Homo sapiens: one gene and its partners. The protein of the gene in region 1 interacts with the protein of each later gene in a biochemical or structural test. Each region holds a gene or a part of one and is shown in the gene's direction. Other genes may lie near its edges. The genes, in order: PML, CHEK2, RARA and HIPK2.

Evidence for each region.
Region 2: the proteins of PML (region 1) and CHEK2 form a complex in vitro, tested with the Homo sapiens proteins (2 studies listed by BioGRID, with this or other methods).
Region 3: the proteins of PML (region 1) and RARA form a complex in vitro, tested with the Homo sapiens proteins (one study listed by BioGRID).
Region 4: of the proteins of PML (region 1) and HIPK2, one has a biochemical effect on the other in vitro, tested with the Homo sapiens proteins (2 studies listed by BioGRID).

What each region holds. Positions count from the first base shown.
Region 1 is NC_000015.10:73,997,716-74,004,762, forward strand, and holds part of PML (protein PML), read left to right. Parts: intron 1-288; coding exon 289-761; intron 762-7,047.
Region 2 is NC_000022.11:28,689,821-28,696,820, reverse strand, and holds part of CHEK2 (serine/threonine-protein kinase Chk2), read left to right. Parts: intron 1-947; coding exon 948-1,111; intron 1,112-1,578; coding exon 1,579-1,694; intron 1,695-2,703; coding exon 2,704-2,789; intron 2,790-7,000. UniProt on the Homo sapiens protein: Serine/threonine-protein kinase which is required for checkpoint-mediated cell cycle arrest, activation of DNA repair and apoptosis in response to the presence of DNA double-strand breaks.
Region 3 is NC_000017.11:40,354,173-40,358,183, forward strand, and holds the end of RARA (retinoic acid receptor alpha), read left to right. Parts: intron 1-129; coding exon 130-334; intron 335-1,090; coding exon 1,091-1,249; intron 1,250-1,836; coding exon 1,837-2,054; 3' UTR 2,055-3,471; downstream 3,472-4,011. UniProt on the Homo sapiens protein: Receptor for retinoic acid. Retinoic acid receptors bind as heterodimers to their target response elements in response to their ligands, all-trans or 9-cis retinoic acid, and regulate gene expression in various biological processes.
Region 4 is NC_000007.14:139,774,961-139,781,956, reverse strand, and holds the start of HIPK2 (homeodomain-interacting protein kinase 2), read left to right. Parts: upstream 1-3,958; 5' UTR 3,959-4,333; coding exon 4,334-4,352; intron 4,353-5,809; exon of another isoform or gene 5,810-6,996.

The sequences.
Region 1 (7,047 bases):
CCAAACTGAGTTCCTTGAAGGCAGAATGTATCCTACACCTCTTATATCTCAGAGCCTATTACTGTGGGTGATGAGAAGTAGATGCTCAATAAATGGTGCAGTGAGAGCTGGAGGGCCTGAATAAATGGGGGTATTGGGGTGCTGATAAGCCAGGGTTTTGCATCATCCAATGACTGGCTGGAATGGAATATGAGGTCCTACTCCAGGGTCCAGCTGTAAGGGTGGTTGGCCGGTAGGTGGGGGCTTTTGGGACTTCTCCAGGCCTCACCTGCCTCTCTGGTCCCCCAGCGAGCCCCCGCTTCGGAGGAGGAGTTCCAGTTTCTGCGCTGCCAGCAATGCCAGGCGGAAGCCAAGTGCCCGAAGCTGCTGCCTTGTCTGCACACGCTGTGCTCAGGATGCCTGGAGGCGTCGGGCATGCAGTGCCCCATCTGCCAGGCGCCCTGGCCCCTAGGTGCAGACACACCCGCCCTGGATAACGTCTTTTTCGAGAGTCTGCAGCGGCGCCTGTCGGTGTACCGGCAGATTGTGGATGCGCAGGCTGTGTGCACCCGCTGCAAAGAGTCGGCCGACTTCTGGTGCTTTGAGTGCGAGCAGCTCCTCTGCGCCAAGTGCTTCGAGGCACACCAGTGGTTCCTCAAGCACGAGGCCCGGCCCCTAGCAGAGCTGCGCAACCAGTCGGTGCGTGAGTTCCTGGACGGCACCCGCAAGACCAACAACATCTTCTGCTCCAACCCCAACCACCGCACCCCTACGCTGACCAGGTGAGTAGGCCGGCACAGGGTGGGGTGGTGCATCCAAGTACCAGGTAGAGGGCGAGAGGAGCAAAGATCCAAAGAGTCACACAGCTGAGGACAAGGAGCTTCTGGGGCCTTGCAACTCTAAATGTGGTCTGCAGATATGCAGTGTCCGTGTTGATGACCACAATTTATGCTGCCAGTCCCCACGCAGGTGGATAGTAAGTTTCCAGTTTCCTCCTGTAATAAATAATGCTGCAGAATCATCTTTGCATCTTTATCCAGTAACTTCTTTAGGATAAATTTTTAGAAGTGCCACTGCTGGGTGTAGGGGGACGGGAATTCTACATTTGATACATGTTACCAAACTGCCCTTTAGAATTTAGTGGAATTTTCCGAGAGCACTGACACGGAATCTCAGTAAGGCTGGATTCTAGGATCAGAGACAAGTAGTTAGTTTCTGTCTGAAAAGTTGAAACCATTAACACCAGGCAGCGCTATCTGAGAATGTCTGTATGGGGAAAAAAAATCACATCCAGTTGTAATTATTTTTATTAAACAGATTTTAACTCAGTTTTTTAATAGGTAATACATTCGTACAGTTCACGAACAAAATTTGTAAAGAGGAGAGAGAGAGTGCAATCTTCTGTCCATGCCCAACTGCCTAATTCCCACCACTTCTCCCTCTTCCCATCCACAGGTAGCCATTGTTACTAGTTTTGAATGTTTCTTCTGAGAGTTTCTTTACGAATATATATGCAGGTAGGAGCAATCTTATCAGGTCCTATTTTCCCTCTTTTAGCCAAAAAGGTAGCATAACTATGTGAACTTTTCACCATTAGCAATAGATTGTTCATAGAAGGCGCTTCTTGGTTCTTAGAGATCCACTTGCAAAATGAAAGCATTTTTCGCTGGTTTTTGACAACTCAGAACTATATATGGCTAAACCACATATTTGCTGAACTACATATCTGCTAAACTGACTGTGATTTGTTTCCTGCTTTAGGATAAACTTCCCACACTATCAGAATAAGCTTTCCCCTCCGACTCCTCAACAGCTGGTATCACCACGTTTCTTAGCTTATTGTAAAGGTTGAGTGGCTTTCCACTTGTTTATTGGCCATTGTGTTTCTGCATTTGCGAGTGGCCTGTTTAGGTCCTTTGCCTGTTGTTGTTGTTGTTTCCGTTGAGGAATTAAGGGACTAATTAAAGAATTCAGGAACAAATTCCTCGAAAGAAAAAAATGTATGCATTTCTTTTGCTCTTACAATTTATGCAGTTTTAAAACTTACATATTTATTGGATTTTGATTGAAATTGCAATAAATTAGGAGAAATTGGCTTTATCTCTGGTTCTATCTTTTGGATTTAAAAAATTTTTTTTAATTTTTTTTTTTTTTTTTTGAGATGGAGTCTCGCTGTGTCACCCAGGCTGGAGTGCAGTGGCGCGATCTCGGCTCACTGCAACCTCCACCTCCCGGGTTCACGCCATTTTCCTGCCTCAGCCTCCCAAGTAGCTGCGATTACAGGTGCACATCATCATGCCTGGCTAATTTTTTGGCATTTTTAGTAGAGACAGGGTTTCACTATAATGGTCAGGCTGGTCTCCTGACCTCAGGTGATCCACCTGCCTCGGCCTCCCAAAGTTCTGGGATTACAGGCATGAGCCACCATGCCCAGCCTTATACTAATTTCTTAATGAATTTGTAAGCTTTCATGTTTTGAACGTGATAATGCAGCCATCCCACGGGATCCATGGGAGTCTGTTTCAAATTCATAGATGCTCAAGTCTCTGATATAAAATGGCATAGTATTTGTATATAACCTCTACACATCCTCCTGTATACTTTATTTTTTATTTTATTTTTATTTTTTGAGACGGGGTCTTGCTCTGTCGCCCAGGCTGGAGTGCAGTGCTGCACTCGTGGCTCACTGCAGCCTCAATCTCTTGGGTTCAAACAATCCTCCCACCTCAGCCACCAGATTATACAGGACTGCAGGTGTGCACCACCACACTCAGCTAATTTTTAAATTTTTTGTAGAGACAGGGTTTCACGACATTGCCCAGACTGGTCTTGAGAACTCTTGGGCTCAGGCAGCAACCCTCCCTAGGCCTCTCAAAGTGCTGGGATTACAGGTGTGAGCCACTGTACCCATCCCCTCCTGTATACTTTAAGTCATCTCTAGATTACTTATAATGCCTAATACAATGTAAATGCTATGTAAAGAGTTGTTTTACTATATTTTTGAATTTGTATATTTTTTTATTGTGGTACTTTTTTAATTGATTTTTTTTCGCCTGAATATTTTTGATCCAAGATTTGTTGAATCCACGGGTGCGTAACCTGCAGATACTGAGGGCCAACTGTACATATAAATTGTTTAGCGTAGTGCCTGGCACATATTAAATACTCAGTGAATGTTAAAATTCTATTATAATTTCTCTGCTCTAGAACAATTTGAAGAATATAAGAAATTTAGGCTTATAAAAGTTTTTTGAAAAACCATCTTGGAACTGGTGCCTTTTTTATAGTAGATTTTTGGGAACTTTTCCCATTTTTGCCATGGCATTAATCTGTTTTGGCTCTTGTGTCAGATTTTTGGAAGATTTTCCAGTTCATCCTGAGTTATCTTTCATTATTTAAAAATCTCCTATATGCCTGTAACTATACCCCCTTTTTTTATTTCTGATGTTGTATATTTGTGGTTTAGCAGTCTTTTCAAAGTACTGTACTTTTAGTCTTTCCTTAGATTGCTTACTGATTTTAATGTTTTCCTTCTTTCTGTTTGATCATTTTATTTTTGTCATTTTCTTCCTTCTAACTTTTGTCATTATTCATTTTCTAGCTTCTTGAACTTATAATTCATTTATTTGCAATCTTTATTGTTTAATAATAATAACTTTTTTTTTTTTGAGAATCTCCCTCTGTCACCCAGGCTGGAGTGCAGTGGTAGATCTTGGCTCACTGCAACCTGTGCCTCCTGGGTTCAAGTGATTCTCCTGCCTCAGCCTCCCCAGTAGCTGAGACTACAGGTGCCCACCACCATGCCTGGCTAATTTTTTTTATTTTTAGTAGAGACGGGGTTTCCCCATGTTGACCAGGCTGGTCTCGAACTCCTGGCCTCAAGTGATCCACCCGCCTCAGTCTCCCAAAGTTCTGGGATTACAGGCGTGAGCTACAATGCCCTGCCTAATAATAACTCTTTTAAGGCATAAGTTCTCTGTATATGGTTTTGGCTGTATGCCATAACTTTGATAACTTCATTAGTGTTCTCATAGTCAATCATTTCTCAAATTTCATTTCAGTCTTTTCTTAAAAAGGTTCTCTTGCTTAAGGTCAAGAGTTCGAGATCAGCCTGGGCAACATAGCAAGACCTCATCTTTACAAAAAATAAAAAAAATTAGCCAGGCATGGTCGGTGGTACATGCTTGTAGTCCCAGTTATTTGGGAGGTTGAGGCAGGAGGGTTGCTTGAACCTAAGAATTTGAGCCTGCAGTGAGCTGTGATGGTGCCACTTCACTCCAACCAGAGCATCAGAACCGGACCCTGACTCGAAAAAAAAAAAAAAGAAATTTTTTTCTCTTGAAAAGTTTTAGAGAATAGTGTTTTCTAAAATTTTCAAGTGGTTTTGATGTTTGGTTTCTTGTTCTGTCACCCAGGCTGGAATGTGATGGTGCGATTTCATACTTGTTAATTTCTGCACTATGGCCAGTTTATACAGTTTGTATGAGTTCTACATCTAAGACTATATTGAGATTTTCTTAGCGGCCTAGGATATTCCTTGGACTCACATATTCCTAGCAATAATCCTTAGAGTTGAAAAGTTGTATTTGTTGTACACACATATATATACATACACAAATATATGTATATAATATATATGTGTATATATGCATATATCTATATGTATATATCCATATATATGTAAGTTCTAGTGCTTGTGTGTGTGTGTGTATCTCCACGCTATTGAAACTTTCTACCTTTCTTTCTTTTCTTTTTTTTTTTTTTTTTTTGATGGAGTCTTGCTCTGTCATCCAGGTTGGAGTGCAGTGGCATGATCTCGGCTCACTGCAACCTCCTCCTCCCGGGTTCAAGTGTTTCTCCTGCCTCAGCCTCCTGAGTAGCTGGGATTACAGGCGTGTGCCACCATGCCCGGCTAAGTTTTTTTTTTTTTTTTGTATTTTTAGTAGAGAAGGGGTTTCATTATGTTGGCCAGGATGGTCTTGATCTCCTGACCTTGTGATCCACCCGCCTCAGCCTCCCAAAGTGCTGGGATTACAGGCGTGAGCCAACATGTCTGGCCGAAACTTTCTACCTTTCCTTCCATTCTGTTTCACCAGTTCTCTAAATGATAATTACAGAGTGGTAACTTCCCCATCAAAACATATATATAGGCCAGATGTGGTGGCTTCCACCTGTAATCCCAACACTTTGGGAGGCCAAGGCCGGTGGATATTTTGAGCCCAGGAGTTTGAGGCCAGCCTGGGCAATATGGTGAAACCCCGTCTCTACAAAAAAATACAAAATTAGCTGGACATGGTGGCACATGCCTCTCGTCCCAGCTATTCGGGAGGTGGAGGTATTCCTCAGAGAGGATCACCTGAGCCTGTCCGTTCAAGGATGCAGTGAGCCATGATCACGCCACTGCACTCCAGCCTGGGTGACACAATGAGACTCTGTCTTAAAAAAAGAAAAAAAGTGGGCCAGGCGCAGTGGCTCACGCTTGTAATCCCAGCACTTTGGGAGGCTGAGGCAGGCGGATCATGAGGTCAGGAGTTCAATACCAGCCTCACCAACATGGTGAAACCTCGTCTCTATTAAAAATACAAAAATTAGCCGGGCGTGGTGGCGGGCGCCTGTAATCCCAGCTACTCGGGAGGCTGAGGTAGGAGAATTGCTTGAAACTGGAAGGCGGAGGTTGCAGTGAGCTGAGATTGTGCCACTGCACTCCAGCCTGGGCAACAAGAGTGAAACTCCATCTCAGAAAAAAAAAGTGTATACACACACCAACACACACATACATGCACACTCTAGAACCTATCTCATCTATCACCACAAAGAGTAGAATATAACTATTCTTCCAGAGAAAATAAAACATTTAGCACACTTTTATAGTTTTTCTTCTTCCCTCTTCCTTCTCACTTTCAGATTTAGTTGAAATAATGTGAACTTTTAGTTCCAGATTACTACCAAATTGTTAATTTTTTTTTCTTTTGTAAACATCCTTTCTGAACAGGTATTAAGCTTCATGGTCATATTACAACGCACTTGTTAGCCATACCTTATACTTTAATTGGTTTCATTGCTCATGATAAGTTTTCCTATAGCTTTTCTTCTCCTTTCTTGAATTATTTAAGGTGATTAATTTTCCATTTGGCAGGAATACTCCATCAAGTAATTAAAAAAATTATTCCAGAGTTTACTTTCTGAGACCTTAAGTGTCTTTACTTGTATGTCCTTCTTTTGCTGTCACATGTGAGGGAAAGTTGAGCTAGGTGTAAAATTCTGAGGTCATAATCACAGTGCTTTCACCTCAGAATATATAAACCTTGCTTCATAAATTTCTAGTCTCTGGTGTTGTAGATGAGAAGTCCACTAATGGTCTATTTTTTCTCTGTGAGTAATCTGTTTTTGTTTGTTAAGGATCTTTATTTATTTTTATTTATTTTACTTTTTAGAGATGGGGTCTCACTCTGTCACCCAGGTTGGAATGCAGTGGTGCAATCAGAGTTCACTGCAGCCTCAAACTCCTGGGCTCAAGCAATCCTCCCACCTTGACCTCCCAAGTAGCCAGGACTACAGGCACCTGCCACCGTGCCTGGCTAATAAATATAGTTGGATGGTTTTCATTTGTTTATTTGTTTGTTTAGAGATAAGTTCTTGCTCTGTTGCCCAGGCTGGTGTGCAGTGGTGTGATCATAGCTCACTGTAACCTCGAACTCCTAGACTCAAGAGGTCTGCTAGCCTTAGTCTCTGAGTAGCTAGGACTATAGGTGCCTGCCACCATGCCTGGCTAATTTTTAAAATTTTATGTAGAGATAGGGTCTCACTATATTGCCCAGGCTGGTCTAAACTCCTGGCTTCAAGTGATCCTCCTGCCTTAGCCGCCCAAAGCACTGGGATTACAGGCTTGAGCCCATGCCCAGCCTGCTAAAGATCTTTATATAATTTTTTCTTTTTTCAATAATCTTCTATCGCCATTGTTGATCTGAAAAACTCAAGTCTTTCTTCAGCTCTTCATCTCAGGGAAATTGTATTCTGCTTTTTAATTTTTTTTTTTTTTTTGAGATAGAGTATTGCTCTTGGAATATA
Region 2 (7,000 bases), on another chromosome or scaffold:
AGCGTAAAAAGGATGAGAATCTGACCCTTTCACTGTTACCAATTATTTTAGAGATCAGGTGATACTGCTCTTATCCAGATTCGAATGAGCATTTATTGAGCTCTGTTGTGTACAAGTGACCTTTGTGCTTAGAGAGAGAGGAGGGGTCTAAATGGACGAGTGGGCTGGGTATGGTGGCTCACACCTGTAATCCCAGCACTTTGGGAGGCCGAGGTGGGCAGATCACCTGAGGTCAGGAGTTTGAGACCAACCTGGCCAACATGGCAAAAAATACAAAAATTTAGCTGGGCATGGTGGTGGGTGTCTGTAATCCCAGCTACTTGGGAGGCTGAGACACGAGAATCACTTGAACCTGGGAGGCAGAAGTTGCAGTGAGCTGAGATCGCACCACTGCACTCCAGCCTGTGCAAAAGGGCCAGACATCATCTCAGAATAGGTGAATGAATGAATGAGTAATCACATGCGCTGCCTTTCCCTGTTTCTCAAGTCTGGCATCACTTTAGAATCTCTTGTTAGGATTTATGACACCCAGGCTTTACCTCAGAAGCTGAGAGTGGCACTCAGGTATAAGCATGTGTTTCCAAGCTCCCCAGGTATTCCATAGCGCAGCCAAGTTTGAGACACTGGGGTCTAAGAACCATGTAGAACTAATTAGAATCCTGAAGTGTCTGTGATAAAGATAATAAGCTTTTTGTAAGATTACAGAGGACATAGGTTAAGTTGGAAAGCCTGAGTGTTGAGATTCCTAGGCTCAGGAATTTTAATTTAAGCAAAATTAAATGTCCTAACTTGCAAAGACATGAATCTGTAAATTCCAGATTAATGGCAGGTGTGAATTGTACAATAGAAACTGATCTAGCCTACGTGTCTTCTTGGACTGGCAGACTATGTTAATCTTTTTATTTTATGGCAAGTTCAACATTATTCCCTTTTGTACTGAATTTTAGATTACTGATTTTGGGCACTCCAAGATTTTGGGAGAGACCTCTCTCATGAGAACCTTATGTGGAACCCCCACCTACTTGGCGCCTGAAGTTCTTGTTTCTGTTGGGACTGCTGGGTATAACCGTGCTGTGGACTGCTGGAGTTTAGGAGTTATTCTTTTTATCTGGTAAGAAATATTTTCATTGCTGCACAGACTGGTAGGAGGTGATTAGATGAAGTCACAAATGTGTCTTGCTCTGTTGTCCAGGCTGGCATGCAGTGGCTTGATCTTGGCTAACTGTAGCCTCTGCCTCCTGGGTCAAGTGATCCTCCCACCTCAGCCTCCCGAGTAGCTGGGACTACAGATGCACACCACCATGCCCAGCTAATTTTTCTATTTTTTGTAGTGATGGGGTTTTGCCATGTTGCCCAGGCTGGTCTCGAACTCCTGGGCTCAAGTGATCCTCCTGCCTCGGCCTCCCAAAGTGCTGGGATTACAAGCCTAAGGCATTGTGCCCAGCCTAGCTCACTTTTTGACCATTGATTTAAAGAAAAATCTGACTTTTCATTATGCTGAAAAAGAAATCTTTATATCTGAATGCCACTGAGAATGCCACTTGATTTCTTTTCCTTTCTCTCTCTACCAATATTAAGCCTTAGTGGGTATCCACCTTTCTCTGAGCATAGGACTCAAGTGTCACTGAAGGATCAGATCACCAGTGGAAAATACAACTTCATTCCTGAAGTCTGGGCAGAAGTCTCAGAGAAAGGTATGAATATGAAAGGGTTAAGAATTTGTGGTATGCTAAAATGTGTATGTGCTGTGGTGGGAGTTTCTTCCCAAATTCCATGGTGTTTTCTCCTGTCAATTCTGTTCTTATTTTCTATTGTTAGTTTCACACCATTTGAGAGGCACTGGAAATTATTAAGAGCATGCACTCAGGTCCTGGGTCTGCTACTACTTAGCTGTGTGGCCTTAGGCAAGTTATTTAACCTCCATCTCCAATTTCTTTCTGTGTAAAGGGACCCTCAATAAACCCTACCTTAAAAGGTTTTTGTGAGGGTTAAGTATCATGTACACAAGTGCCTGGTACCTATTTTAGTGAGCAAAATAAATGCACTTGTAACTTTTTAGTTACAAGGTTTCCTTTGAGTAAGCAAGCATGTAAAAACTAGATGTCATTAGTTACCTTGTATTTTATAATTTATCCTGGCAACTTTAGTTCCCTGAAGAGAAAGTAGAAAATTAAATGTCAAATAACATAACATAGGTGATTGTGTTAAATGTCAGAATATTTAAGGAATAATAATGTTGTAATATACAGGCCAGCGTGCATTTGTTGCTTGCTGGAGTAGCCAAGTTTTATTTCTGACAAGTCTGCAGTTCCAGGGAGCCTCTCCCTCGCTGAGTAACTGTCACCTATCCATCTGTAGATGTCAGAGAGAGTTTGCTGTGCATCCCAAGTATCTTAGAATTGGGTAGAAGTTTAGCTTTAATTAGTCCGACCTTGAGTCTAGCAACAAGAGAGGGAACAGGCAGTGAAGAGGTCGTGACTGACGTCCCAGCAGCAGGAGACAGGGAGTGTCATTATCATTCCTGGTCTTCTCACAGTACTCTGAATACAGAGAGTGAGGAAGATTAGGGGGCCCTGTCTGCTGACTCCGTGATGATCTCAGACCCTCTCTGCTCTTTCTGAATGGTGGCCTGTTAATTCTGGCATACTCTTACTGATAATATATTTATCCTTTTCACTGTGATTTGCCCAATTGTTGCTTTAGCTCTGGACCTTGTCAAGAAGTTGTTGGTAGTGGATCCAAAGGCACGTTTTACGACAGAAGAAGCCTTAAGACACCCGTGGCTTCAGGTGGGTGTGGGACAGTGCCTGCTAGCATAAAATACATGGGAAGCCCTGCTGCCTGAGAGACATGAGACAGAGGACAGAAACATGTTTACTTTGTTGAGTGTTTAATCTAATTGTTTTAGATGTATGGGGGGTATCTTGGAGGATGGGTTACAACCTGTTTTATTTTTTTTTTTGAGACAGGTTCTTGTTCTGTCACCCTGGCTGGAGTGCAGTGGCACGATCTCAGCTCACTGCAACCTCTGGCCCCCGGGTTCAAGTGATTCTCCTGCCTCAGCCTCCCAAGTAGCTGGGATTACAGGTGCATGCTGCCATGCCCAGCTACTTTTTGTATTTTTTGTAGAGATGGGGTTTCGCCGTGCTGGCCAGGCTACAACCTTTTTGATATTACTCATGGCTGTTGGATGTACACGCTCACTTTATGTCCTGTTCTGGTTCCACTTGGCTGCCCCGAGTCTCCTGTTTGGCCTGTGTTCTTTTGAGTGCTTGTTCTGGCTCTACCCCCAGCCATGTCCACTGCTCTTCATAGGTGGGGTGCATTCCAGCCATCTTCAACCTTAAATCAGGGAAGTGGGGGAGGGGGAGGAGGACAGCCTCCCTGGGGAGAATCCAGCTATTTCTCAAGCCCAAGTGACTGGGTATAAAGGGTCCCACTGCTTGTTCATTCAGGTGAGTAAATGTGTCCTTAATGAAGGCTGTCACCTGCACTTTTCATCTGTATTACCGCTGTGCTCCTGCTAGGGGTTGGGGCTGCCATTTTTAAATGCTGACCTCATCTGGAACTGCCAAGAGTTGGAAGTATGTTGTGGCTTTGCTGGGTTAATCTTTAGTTTTAGAATTAGCCACGGCATTGGGCAGGTTTTTCTGATAGATGTCTGGTCTTCTGTAATGAGCAGTTCCATTCAGCACAGACATGCCCCTTTCTATGAATTTTTTTTTGGTTTGTGTATTAGTCTGTTCTCACACTGCTATAAAGAACTGCCCAAGACTGGGTAATTTACAAAGAAAAGAGGTTTAACTGACTCACAGCTGCACATGGCTGGGGAGGCCTCAGGAAACTTATAATCATGGTGGAAGGGGAAGAAGGCATGTCTTAATGGCAGCAGGTGAGAGAGCTTGTGAAGGAAGTGAAGGGCGAAGATCCTCTTATGAAACTGTCAGATCTGGTGAGAACTCACTCACTATCACGAGAATAGCCTGGGGGAAACTGCCCCCATGAGCCAATCACCTCTCAACAGGTCCCTTTCTCAACACCTGGGGATTACAATTTGAGATGAGATTTGGGTAGGGACACAAAGCCAAACTGTATCAATCCGTTTTCTGTGGAGATGGGGGACAGAACTGGTAGCTTGAGCTAGAGGCTGTTACTTGAGCTAAATGCTGTTTCTCTGGGGATTACTGGTCCAGGAACTCCTTGGGCAGTCCAGCCTCCGACCCGTACTTCTGGGACTCTGGGAAGACTGTCCCTGTTCTCTGTTCCAATCCTCTACACCTAACAGTTTTGCTCAGGCCAGCTCAGGTTGAGAACAACAAAAACTTAAAACAAACAAACAAACAAACAAAAAAAGACATATATGTGTTTGGATGTTGCCCTGGAAACTACAGTCTCCCCAGAAGAAATCTGTCAGATGATTTAGCATTTAATAGACCACACAGATTTGAAACAGTGGGACCCTGGAGGAAAGGGGTTTGGAAACAAAGGGTGCCTTTGCATGTGGGGATTTTAATTTTGATGAAAAAGAGAAACATGTCTTTTGGCTCTTTTCATGTGTCCTAATAGGGAAACTCTTGGGTCTAAATGTAGAGGTACAGGAGCTGTGTTCATCTCTAACAAAAAATAGAGCTGGCCAGTTGAGCCTGGGAACAGGGTTTGCATCTGCCTGAAATTTATGAGCAAGCATAGCCTATCTTTCTTGTACTTTTTTGTGTCAAAGAAAACTTATTAACAACCAAGGAGAAGGTGAAGTTCAACTCTGTTGCAGGATCTCCCTGGAATACTCTTTTAGCCACCTTTTGTTTTTGCAGTGAAAGGAGGAATGAGCATTGAATGAAGACAAGGATGAAGACTGACCATCTAAAACATCTGTTAGTGATAGTTTGGGTTTTATTTTGGGAAAATTCAGTGTTTTTGAAAAAACCAAATGGTTTTGTGGGTCTGTCGCTGAACTGAGTGTTGGGAATGTGGATTCTGGTCTCTGTTTTGTCATTAACAGAGTGCCCAGTTTTGGGAGCATCCCTTACATCTACTCTCTGCCTCATATTTACTGCCTGAAATAGAGGATTTCTTCTGTTTACTTTCAAGGGATATTACAATTTAATTTTTATTTTATTTACTGTTGGAGACAAGGTCTTCTTCTGTTGCCTAAACTGGAGTGCACTGGTGCAATTATAGCTCACTGCAGCCTTGATCTCCTGGCCTTAAGGGATCCTCCCGCCTCAGCCTCACAAAGTGCTTGGATAATAGGCACGAGCCACTGTTCCTGGCTAATTTAATATTTTGGAATAATTGTAGACATCATGAAGAAAATCAATGTTTATTTATTTATTTCCTTTTTTGAGATGGAGTCTTGCTTTTGTCTACCAGGCTGGAGTGCAATGGTGTGATCTCAGCTCACTGCAACCTCTACCTCTGGGTTCAAGTGATTCTCCTGCATCAGCCTCCCAAGTGGCTGGGATTACAGGTGCCTGCCACCATCCCAGCTCATTTTTGTATTTTTAGTAGAGATGGGGTTTCACCATGTTGGTCAGACTGGTCTCGAACTCCTGACCTCAGGTTATCTACCCACCTTGGCCTCCCAAAGTGCTGGGATTCCAGGCATGAGCCACTGTGCCTGACCTGATTACTTGTTTTAAATACAGGCCTGATTAGGCTTGTGACCACTCTGTTTGGCTTCACTGAAGGGCTGCCAAGAGATGGACTTTTGAGAGTGACACTGCAAGATAATTGAGATCCTAAGTAAGGCCGTGAGAGGGTGCGGAGTAGAATCCAGATGAGCTTGCTGCTGTCAAATGGCAATGGGGAGCTACACTGAGAAACTCAAAACAGAGTGACCTCAAGTGATCTGCCCTGCCTTGGCCTCCCAAAGTGCTGGGATTACAGGCGTGAGCCACTGTGCCTGGTCCTTCTTTCCTTCTTTCTTTCTTCCTCCTTCCTTCCCCCTCCCCTCTCCTCCATTCCTTTCCCCTCCCTTCTTTCGTCCCCCCTCCCCTTTTTCCTTCCTTGCTTCTTTCCTTTCTTCCTTCCTCAGGGTCTTGCTCTCTCACCTAGGCTGGAGTGCAGTGGCATGATCACTGCACCATGACTTTCAGGCTCAAGTGATCCTCCTGCCCCAGCCTCCCAAGTAGCTGAGACTACAGGTGCATGCCACCATGTCTGGCTAATTTAAATTTTTTTTTTTTTTTTTTTGGAGACAGTGTTGTACTCTTTTGCCCAGGCTGGAGTGCAGTGGTGTGATCCTGGCTTACTGCAACCTCCGCCTCTTGAGTTCAAGCGATTCTCCTGCCTCAGCCTCCTGAGTAGCTGGGATTACAGGCGTGCACTACCATGCCCTGCTTATTTTGTATTTTTAGTAGAGAAGGGGTTTCACCATGTTAGCCAGGCTGATCTCAAACTTCCGACCTCAGGCGATTCGCCTGCCTTGGCCTCCCAAAGTGCTGGGATTACAGGCGTGAGCCTCCGTGCCTGGCCTAATTTTTAATTTTTTTTGTAGTGACGAAGTCCCACTATGTTGCCCAGGCTGGTCTCAAATTCCTGGCCTCAAGCAATTCTCCCACCTTGGCCTCCCAAAGTGCTGGGATTATAGGCATGAGCCACCATGCCCAACCTAGTGTTGTAAAATTTCCATATCCATCAAATTGCCAAATGGTGGAGGACTTTACTGTATCCTCTCCCTTTCCCCACTGTGGTATGCTTGGCTCAGTGGGAGGAGGGGCTGGAGTTGGGTGGGAAAGTACATGAGGCACTGGAATCAGATAACTCTGGGTCTGTATTCTGCACATGCCACCTGTGAGTGGCTGAGCTGGGCTTCTGGCCAGCACTCAAAGGCCACATTCCTAGTTATGGATGTTCCTTTCACCTTGCTGAAGATGGGGAGAGCTGCACCAGACCACCTCTCAGGGTTTCCTAATGCAAATCCTCGAACCCTGCAGAAGTGAGCATCCAGAGAGGTGGGAGCTACTCGCATACACACTGTCTGTGCCCTCCTCATCTCCTG
Region 3 (4,011 bases), on another chromosome or scaffold:
TCTATCAGACAGCATTGCTCCGGCCACCTGCCAGGTGGTCCTCCGGGAGTGCTGGTGCGGAGTGCTGGTGCCGAGTGCTCAGAGTGGGTTCGGGTTCAGTCCCTGAACCCAAGCATCCTCTGCACCCAGATCCTGCGGATCTGCACGCGGTACACGCCCGAGCAGGACACCATGACCTTCTCGGACGGGCTGACCCTGAACCGGACCCAGATGCACAACGCTGGCTTCGGCCCCCTCACCGACCTGGTCTTTGCCTTCGCCAACCAGCTGCTGCCCCTGGAGATGGATGATGCGGAGACGGGGCTGCTCAGCGCCATCTGCCTCATCTGCGGAGGTGGGCAGGGGGCCTGGGTCTGGGGGCTGGGCTGGGACGGGGGTGCAGCCCTGGAGTCTCTTCCAGGGAGCTCTTTCAGGCCACCTCTGTTAGGTATCTCTAGAGGGCAGGGTCTGGTCTGCAACTACACAGCAAGGGGGCCATGTGGGGCCTGGACTCCTGTTCCCGATTTCTGGGCAACACCCCTTCTAGGGAGGTTAAGAGTGAGGGTTTGAGGGTCGGACCAACCAGGGTCACCTCCTGGCCGATGCATGACCCTGAGCAGGTTGCTGAACTTCTCTGGGCCTCCGTTTCTGTACAGTGGGGGCGGTAACGGTCTCTAGCTCATGAAGTTGATGGGAGGATTACGGTGGTAACAGATACTGTGCAGGTGCCCAGAGCGAGCTCCAGTGCTTGTTAGTTGCTATTTTATTGTTGTGATTTCTGCCATTTCATCTGGTTTCCAGAATAACAGGGGGGAGTGGGAGCCTGCCTGGGAACCCTCTCCCTGCTTGAGGATGGCACTGCCCATTTGGGGTCCCATCCCACTAACTGGGCTCAGGGAGGGTTTGGGGCACCCCCTCACCCTCAGCTCCCGTTGCTCCCTTTTAAGGGCCTCTGTACCCTGCGGCAGCAGAGACCCCATGCCCTGCCCTGTGTGGGGAGGCGCCTGCGAGCTGCCCTCCTCCATGGCCTGGGCAGGCACGCCCCCCGGTGGCCGAGGCTGGGGGTGCAGCTGTGTTCCCAGCTGCTCAGGGGGTGGTTCTGCTTCCTCAGACCGCCAGGACCTGGAGCAGCCGGACCGGGTGGACATGCTGCAGGAGCCGCTGCTGGAGGCGCTAAAGGTCTACGTGCGGAAGCGGAGGCCCAGCCGCCCCCACATGTTCCCCAAGATGCTAATGAAGATTACTGACCTGCGAAGCATCAGCGCCAAGGGTGAGGCTCACAGACCTGGAGGGGTACCGGCCCCCGACACCTGGCCCAGGCCCCCACATCCAAGCCAGCACCCCATGTCTTTGTGCCAGGACAATACGACACCTGTCCCCATCTGTGTCTAGGCTGAGGTCCCCTAGTGACTCCACTTTGCCGAGGTGGCCCGCCTGTGTCACCTTTGTGTGGTAGTTCAGATCGTGGCTCTGGAACCAGACACGTGGGTGTGTGTCCTTGTGTGGGTCACTCAACAGCTCCTAGCTACAGTTTCCCTTCCGAGGGCGGGGATAACATTCGTGTTTACAGAGGGGTCGGGATGATCCCTAGCACACAGCACAGGGGAAGGAAGGGCTTGGCGTCTAGCCCAGGCCGGCAGTCTGGCCCTGGAGCCGGAGTTCGGGACCACTTTGCCCCATTGCCACCAGCCTCTGGACCTGGGGGCTTAAGAGAGCTGGCTCGTGTCAAAGAACTGAATCCCAAGAAAGATGCTAATATCAGCAGTATTGATCTTCCCACCTCGAGCCAGGCTTGCTGGGGCTGGGGGTGGGAGGGCTGGCCCAGCGTGCTGACCTCTGCCCCCTCCTTTCCTGCAGGGGCTGAGCGGGTGATCACGCTGAAGATGGAGATCCCGGGCTCCATGCCGCCTCTCATCCAGGAAATGTTGGAGAACTCAGAGGGCCTGGACACTCTGAGCGGACAGCCGGGGGGTGGGGGGCGGGACGGGGGTGGCCTGGCCCCCCCGCCAGGCAGCTGTAGCCCCAGCCTCAGCCCCAGCTCCAACAGAAGCAGCCCGGCCACCCACTCCCCGTGACCGCCCACGCCACATGGACACAGCCCTCGCCCTCCGCCCCGGCTTTTCTCTGCCTTTCTACCGACCATGTGACCCCGCACCAGCCCTGCCCCCACCTGCCCTCCCGGGCAGTACTGGGGACCTTCCCTGGGGGACGGGGAGGGAGGAGGCAGCGACTCCTTGGACAGAGGCCTGGGCCCTCAGTGGACTGCCTGCTCCCACAGCCTGGGCTGACGTCAGAGGCCGAGGCCAGGAACTGAGTGAGGCCCCTGGTCCTGGGTCTCAGGATGGGTCCTGGGGGCCTCGTGTTCATCAAGACACCCCTCTGCCCAGCTCACCACATCTTCATCACCAGCAAACGCCAGGACTTGGCTCCCCCATCCTCAGAACTCACAAGCCATTGCTCCCCAGCTGGGGAACCTCAACCTCCCCCCTGCCTCGGTTGGTGACAGAGGGGGTGGGACAGGGGCGGGGGGTTCCCCCTGTACATACCCTGCCATACCAACCCCAGGTATTAATTCTCGCTGGTTTTGTTTTTATTTTAATTTTTTTGTTTTGATTTTTTTAATAAGAATTTTCATTTTAAGCACATTTATACTGAAGGAATTTGTGCTGTGTATTGGGGGGAGCTGGATCCAGAGCTGGAGGGGGTGGGTCCGGGGGAGGGAGTGGCTCGGAAGGGGCCCCCACTCTCCTTTCATGTCCCTGTGCCCCCCAGTTCTCCTCCTCAGCCTTTTCCTCCTCAGTTTTCTCTTTAAAACTGTGAAGTACTAACTTTCCAAGGCCTGCCTTCCCCTCCCTCCCACTGGAGAAGCCGCCAGCCCCTTTCTCCCTCTGCCTGACCACTGGGTGTGGACGGTGTGGGGCAGCCCTGAAAGGACAGGCTCCTGGCCTTGGCACTTGCCTGCACCCACCATGAGGCATGGAGCAGGGCAGAGCAAGGGCCCCGGGACAGAGTTTTCCCAGACCTGGCTCCTCGGCAGAGCTGCCTCCCGTCAGGGCCCACATCATCTAGGCTCCCCAGCCCCCACTGTGAAGGGGCTGGCCAGGGGCCCGAGCTGCCCCCACCCCCGGCCTCAGCCACCAGCACCCCCATAGGGCCCCCAGACACCACACACATGCGCGTGCGCACACACACAAACACACACACACTGGACAGTAGATGGGCCGACACACACTTGGCCCGAGTTCCTCCATTTCCCTGGCCTGCCCCCCACCCCCAACCTGTCCCACCCCCGTGCCCCCTCCTTACCCCGCAGGACGGGCCTACAGGGGGGTCTCCCCTCACCCCTGCACCCCCAGCTGGGGGAGCTGGCTCTGCCCCGACCTCCTTCACCAGGGGTTGGGGCCCCTTCCCCTGGAGCCCGTGGGTGCACCTGTTACTGTTGGGCTTTCCACTGAGATCTACTGGATAAAGAATAAAGTTCTATTTATTCTACACATGCCTCCAGCCTTGCTGCCTCCACCCCCTCCTCTTGGCGTCTGGTCTGGGGGCTTGGGATGGGTTTCGTCATGTGCTCTGGGCCTGTGATGGCCAGGAATGAGCACTGGGGCCAAGGGGCTGGCCAGGGCACCCTTCCAAGCTGCCTTCTGAGGCTTACCTTGTGCTGGGGTCTTTGGAGATGCTGAGAAGGAGAAAGTCCTGCCCCTTGGGAAGCCCTCAGTCTGGGGATCCACACTGCCCATGTCAAGGAGCCCCAGTCTGGGAGTGGGAGAGAAGAGGAGGAAAGCTGCCCCCACCTTCAGGGAACCCCCAGTCTGAGGGAGGAAGCCGGAGCCACCCCTAGACATTTCTGGTCCTTGGGAAGCCTTCACCATCACGGCAGGAATGACAGATGGCACAGGAGCTGGGGTCAGGGACTCATAGAAACCTAACAAGAGGCCTGGCGCAGTGGCTCATGCCTGTAATTCCAGCACTTTGGGAGGCTGAGGTGGGCGGATCACTTGAGGTCAGGAGTTCAAAACCAGCCTGGCCAAC
Region 4 (6,996 bases), on another chromosome or scaffold:
GGTAGAATTTAAGAAACCTGTATTTCCCTCCAAACTAGTTTCACCAAAGTCACTAATGCAACTCTTGTTGCTAAATCCAATTGATGCCTTTCTGCCTTTTTTTTTTTTTTTTTTTTTTTGAGATGGAATTTAGCTCTTGTTGCCTAGGCTAGAGTGCAATGGCACTAGAACTCGGCTCACTGCAACCTCTGCCTCCTGGGTTCAAGCGATTATCCTATCTCAGCCTCCCAAGTAGCTGGGATTACAGGTGCCCACCGCCACGTCTGGCTAATTTTTTTTGTGTTTTTAGTAGAGATGGAGTTTCATCATGTTGGCCAGGCTGGTCTCAAACTCTTGACCTCAGGTGATCTGCCTGCCTCAGCCTCCCAAAGTGCTGGGATTACAGGCGTGAGCCACAGCACCCAGCTGCTTTTCTGCTTTCATCTGACGTGGGCCTCTCAATAGCATGCAGCACTGTTGACCTTGCTGGGATGTTGAGGAATCCCCCGTCCTGGCTGTCCTCCAACTTCTCTGCCCTCTTGTCCATGGGGAGCTCTTTTTCCTCTTCCCATGTCTCAAATACTGGTACTCCCCAGGTTCTGTCACAGATCCTCTCTCCTCCCAGCTCCCATGCTCTCCTTCAGTGACATTTCACTGTTAGGTTTATACCTTGCTGCCACTTGACTGCAGTCACCGGAAGGAAAGGAGACAATTAGTATACTCAGTCTGCCAATTCATGAAGGAAAATCTAAGCTCATTTCAAGAATATTTTTCCGTTATATCATACGAACTTCGCTAGCTCAATTGAATGCATGTTTTGCATCTCATGGATACAGCTTCAGTCATGGTGGTCTGAAGAGAAGGTGGACCTCTGTCTGTATGGCTCCATCTTGTTCCCCTTCCATGGGACTCTATTTCCTTGCCCAAGATTGTTCCCTTCTTATGGGGAGGAGACTACCTGTAAAATGTTTTCGGTTGACACAAGTGATATTCATTTTAAGACTGCCTAGAATCACTCACTGCTAGACAGCAGCTGGGATGGACTTAGAGGCAGTTACTGAACACTGGTCAGTGCTGAATTCAGGGGCAGTCCTATAAAGCAGGGCCTTGCTCCAAGACGCTGCCAATCCAGTTATGAACACAGGGTACCTACACAGAAGACAAGAGTCAGCCATCTAGGGTGCGGGTATGCTGTGGACAACAGAGTGTGAGCAACAGGCAGGAAATGTTCTGTGAGCCTAAGGAAAGATGAGACAAAAGTCAGTGGGGCTGGTCAGAGGGAGGAGTTAGAATAATAATAACTTTTATTGAACCCCTACTATGTGTCTGCCCTCTATATAAAACTCTCTCTCTAATCTAACCCAGCCTCAGAGGCTGTGATGAGGACTATATGAAATGCCTTTTATCGAGTTTGTAGTGTTGTGCTGGACACAAGGGAGCATGCAACAAATTGCAGCTATCATCCATTCAACAAATATGTGTGCAGTACTCACCATGCGTTAGGCAATGCAGTTATTGGACATACAATCCAAAACAAGAAAAACATGGTTTCTGTCCTTACTGAGCTTACAGTCTAGAGACACCTTGTCCAAAATGGTAGCCACTAACCACCCATGGTTATTAAAATTAAAAATTCAGTTCCTCAGTCATACTAGCCACATTTCATGTGCTCCACAGACATAAGTAGCTACACTGCCATTATGGCAGCAAGTTCTAATGGCCAGCACTAGAAAGGGGCAGAGAGACATGCATGTAGGGTATGTATTAACAGGGAGTTACATACCTGTGTGGTGAAGGCTATGATAGAGATTTACAGATGCAAAAGGAGAACATTACTATTGTTCTCCTTCTCATAATCAAAATACAGACACTGAGGCTCAGAGAGGTTAAGCATTTTGACCAAGATCACATAGTTAAGTGGAAGAGCTAGGATTTGAACCTAGGTCTGACTTACTCCCACGCTATCTCGGGCTGTTTTGTGGAGGAGGTGAGCCAGGCACAGGTAGAATCTGCTTAAAGAGAGAAGATGGAGAAGGTACCCCTCTGGGAAAGTGGGTGGGAAAGTGACCGCTTGGGCAAAGGCACAGTGACAGAGATGGGTGAAGCTGGCACTGGGCTACAAGTAAACCAGTTTGGCTAGAGAAGCAGTGACTTGCTGAACTCATGTCCTTAGAAAGCTAAGTCAGGACTCGCCTGCCTTGATGAAAAGCCAAGGCACTCAGCCCCACCTGCAGAGGTTGAGTCCTTAGAGGATGTTAGCCAGGAGCGTGGCATGGCCAGAACCACGTATTATGAAGATGGCAATATTTAGGATGACCTGGGCCAAGACTAAAGTTAAAGATTGCAGGGAGGATAGAAGGGAAGGAGATAAATGACCGGTGTGGAGCAAAAAACACTAGAGTGGGAGCCACGAGACCTATTCCTAAGCTTCAATACTGTGTGACATTGGGCAACAGATTTTACTTCTCTGGACTCCATTTCTTCAACTCTAAAAGGGCAGGGCTGGCCCAGATGACCTCTGAGGTCCTTTTAGCAACAGTAGTCTAGGATTCTGCAAACGTGAATGGCATTAGGTTAAGAGAAGGGATAGGAAGTGTAGCATTGATTATGGGGGCAAGGAAGACCGCAGAGTACAAGATCACACAGAGGAAGGTGTCGTGATGTACCACTAAAAAAGTGTGAAAGAGCTTGCCTTTTTTGGGAAGGACTGAAGGATGGGAACGGAGGATGGAGACCGGAAAGGATAAGAAGTAGTGAGAAAATCACGAGGTTGTTTTTAAGAAAGTTATACAGTGTTAGAGATCATTATTTTACACAGATAGCTTTTCAACTTTTTTAAACCCACGATTCACAGACGGAAATAAAATTGACATCATGGTCCAGTACACTTGTCCAGTACCTATAATCGAAACAAAAGGTTTATGAAACAATAGTTGCCCTTACTAAGGGCAATGGACTCTAATATTTTCTATTGGATTCCATTTCGTTCTTTTTGAAAGCTGGTTGCCTTCCGCTGCATTTATTTTATGATCTATTACTGTGTCACGACCCACAGTTTTAAAAACAGTGCCTAAGAGGAGACTCAACAAGTCTTCCTAAGTTGGAGGGGATGGCAGGGCATCCTATCCAAGCATCCGGGAGGCAGCTGGAGAAGCAAACCTGGAGAGGCTCCCGGCTGGGGAGAGTCTGGAGAGTGTTTAGCGGAAGCCCTGATAGGAGAGAGCGCTGAGAAAAGCGAGGACCCAGAGAGTTGTGAGCTCCCATTCAAGTGATGGAGTGGCGGCCCTCGGGACAGTGTAGACGCGAGGAGGAGAAGATCAGGGTGGCGTGGAAGCCAGACTCCGGCAGGAACCCAGCGACCACCCCGGGGGCTGCATTTCCGCGGCGTGCACGGCAGGGCTTCGGTGCCTCTGACCTCGTGTGGCTTTCCGAAGCTCCTCCACTCACCCGCCCTCCTCCGGAGCACGGCGCGCGCCCACTCCTTCATTCATTCATTCCACTCCTACCTCCGCGAGCGCCAACCGGCTGTGAGATGGGCGAGCCACTTTGCCAGCGTGGGGCTCTCTTTCGGGTCGGTTCCCTCCCCGCCAGCACACGCGCGAACCCTCGCACCTGGGCACACACGCGCGCGCGTGCACACACACACACAAAGTTCTGGGGGCCCCTCTGCAGACCGGCTCGGCTGCGCTGGGCTCGGAGCCGTGCGCCCGCCGGGTCCAGGCCGGCCCTCTCACCCACTACCCGGGGCCCGCCCTGCGCCCAGTCCCCCCGCGCTGCGCGGCAGCCCCTCCCAGCGCGGTCCCCTCGGGCCGCCGGCGCGGCTCTGCCCTTCGGTTCGGCCTTCCCCGCCTCGCATCCGTGCCATCGGCGCTCGATTGCGCGCGGACTCCCTGTGGCTCTCCCGGCCCCGCGCCCCGCCCCCGCCCCCGCCCGCCGCCCCCCTCCGCCAGCAACTTTTGCGGAGCCCCCGCGCCCAGCCATGCTGAGCTGAGCCCCGCCGGCCCTGGCCGCGCGCTGCCCCCGGCTCCCGCCCCTCCGCGGATCCGCTCGGGGGCCGCGGCCGCTCGGCGCCTCGGCCTCGGCCGCTCCGCCCGCCCGGCCGCCCCGAGCCCCGAGCCCCGAGCCCCCCGCGCCGGGCCCGGGCGGCAGCGGCGGCGGCGGCGGCGGCGGCGCGCCCGGCCCCCTCCCCCGGCGCCGGCCACGGGAGGCGGTGATGCGGGCGCGGGCGGCCTCGGCTGCGCCGAGAGCGGAGACACAGGCTCAAGATGGCAGATTCCGACTGAGGCTGGGGGGGCCGAGCTCGCGCGCCGCTTTCCCGTCCCCGTTGCCATGAACCGCGGACACCCCGGCCCCGATGGCCCCCGTGTACGAAGGTAAGGGGCGCCCGGCCCCGCCGACCCCGCGCCCGCCGCCCTCCGCGGCCCCCGCAGCTTTGTTCTGCCCGCGGCCCCGCGCCCGCAGCCCCCGGCGCCTGCCCCAGCCCCCACCCGGGGCCCGAGGGGGCCGCGACCCCCTCCCTCGCCCGGAAGATGACCGGGACCCGGCGCCGGCAGGGTCTTGCTTCCAGGGCGGGGAGAGGGGCCGGGGGCGCAGGAGGGGAGGGGGCGTGTGCGAGGGTGGGCGGCTGCCCGGGGAGGGCAGGGACGCCGGGGAAGGCGGACCGGTGACTGTGCTTTTTATTTATTTGCGATAAATGAAGGTGATGCGGCTTAGCTTCCACCGCCCCCCCACATTACCTTTCGGAGCACCTCCTTTCCACTTCGCTCTCCGCCCCGCGCCCCTTCCCATTTCTTTCCGCGCCCACCCCACGCTCCTTTATTCTCCGCGAGCCTCCGATTTTGGGGGGGCTGTGGAATCGGAATGCACGGGGCTAGGTGGGGAGAGAGGAGAGAGATGAAAAGTCCATGTCAGAGCCAGGCAGAACAATGAAATAGGCGAAAATCTCCCCTCATTAGCGTGTGGAAGGGGACGTGGACTTTGGGTTTTCCAGCCGGGGGAGCGGCGGAGACGTTTTTCTGGCTCGGTCTGGGTCGATCTGTGTTGTGCACCTTCACCTGGCATCGGGGTATTTTTCCCCATTTGACTGCCTTTAGCAAGAAAGAAAAGAACGCAAGGCAGAAAAGCAGTAGGTCTGCCTCGCACACTGTCTTTCGTTTCTCTTCAGTCCGTTCTGTCAGCTTCCAGCCAGAAAGCAACCCAGAATCAACTAAGTTTTTACACTTCGATGTGTTTTTGTGTGCTTGTAGTAGGAGAAATTTTAAACCCAAGTGTGTCTGATTTTTCAGTCGTTTCATCGTGTAAATGTTTGTCTCATGAAATCATTGAAATCGCAGCCTTCACATACTTTTAGCGTGGGTCCCCCGGCTTTCTTTCGGTTTTGTTCAGATATTCTGTGGATGAAATCGCAAATGAGAGGGGACAGGGTTTGTGTGGCACAGAGGAGGGCACGAGGGGGGAATGTAATCCTCCTGTAAATCCGGAGAACAGTTGTGGCCAGTGAGACAGGGAAGGCATTAATAGTTTTATCTCTGTTATAAGAGGCTGATTAAAAAAAAAAAAACTTAAAAGAAAATCTGTTATTAGTTTCAGGGCTCCAAATGAATTAGGTTTCTGGCCGGAATAAAGTTACCAGTCAGGCCCTGGATAACGAGGCTGTAAATAACCTATAGACTGTAAATATTTTTTTTTCAGACTCTCTTAGAAACAAAGGGGCTGTTTAGAAGGCAACAGAGAGATGTTATTCCAGGGGCTTTCCTCTTTGATTCTGAAGAACACAAGGTCCATTTAACCATTCGACAAAACAAAACGAAATTTCTGATCACTCCACCACGCAGAATAGAACATGCCGGTGGACATGTGAACATGCGGGAGAACCCATGTCGGGCGTTCATTGTTCATCTGCGTCTACAGGAGGGGGCTACAGTCAATGCTCCCACTGTCTAGAGTGTTAAAATGAAACAATTTTCTCTTTATTAAGTACCTCCTTGAGACTCCCTCTGCTGGACACTCCCGGTGAGTTGAGAGAAGGAACTTGGCATTGAATTCAGAACTATAGTAAACGGCTGGTTTCCCTGTTACTAGGGACCGGGTATGTGAGTTGGGGTGTATTTTGTCAACTTTGTGGAAAGCCATCTTGGGAACTGCACTGTTCTCCTCCTGCTCCTTTCATTTTAAATCCATATGGAAGGTAGGCCATGCCCCCGAGGCTGAGACTTGGCTCTCCCCGTTCCTGCTACATTGTTCTTCCAGTTCCTTACGCCAGATAAAGAACTGCAGGTGTGTAGGGTGTTACGGTTTAAGAATAATCATGGATCTCAAAAGTCTCATGAACTGTTTTTATTTGCCAGCCTTCCTTCCCTGTCTCAGGTGACCTCCGCGGTGGCCTCTTTCAGCCCTCAGTTTCCCTCCATCTTGTCCGTGTGCCCTCTTCATTGTTCCTGCGCTGTGCACCCTTTTATTCCGGATGTTTATCTGTGCACCTTTATAATTATTTTTCTAATCTTCCTCCCCATCCCACCTCAACTGGCCCACATCAGTCTGCCAAAAGCCCAGATCTGGGTGTTTTTGAAAGAGATTGTTGGACATGCTCTAAAACAGACAGGTGACTTCTAGAATCAAGGATTAGGTTGCTAGGACCCGCATTCACTCACTGTGATGAGTGTGCCAAGACTCTGATGACCTCCTTTCTCCTGCCGTGGTGACATCCTCTGGGTTCAGGAAACCTGATTTTTCCCCTGTCTCAATCAGAGCACATGGACTCCCTGTGTGCATGCTAAACGAGCAGAGCTTTTCCTGTAGATTTCTATAAGAAGAGGGATTCCTTGTGGGTTTTGAGCTCCTAAAGAGTGTGCATGATTCTTCTCAGGAAAAGTATAACGACACGAGAGGGAATTGTTTCAATGGGGTGCTGCTGCACCAAGTTGGAATACCAGGTGAAGGCCCAGATACATTAATGGAGCGTTCTGAACCGCCAGAGATTTAGACAGAAATGCTGTTTTTGAAACAAGGGGTATTTGA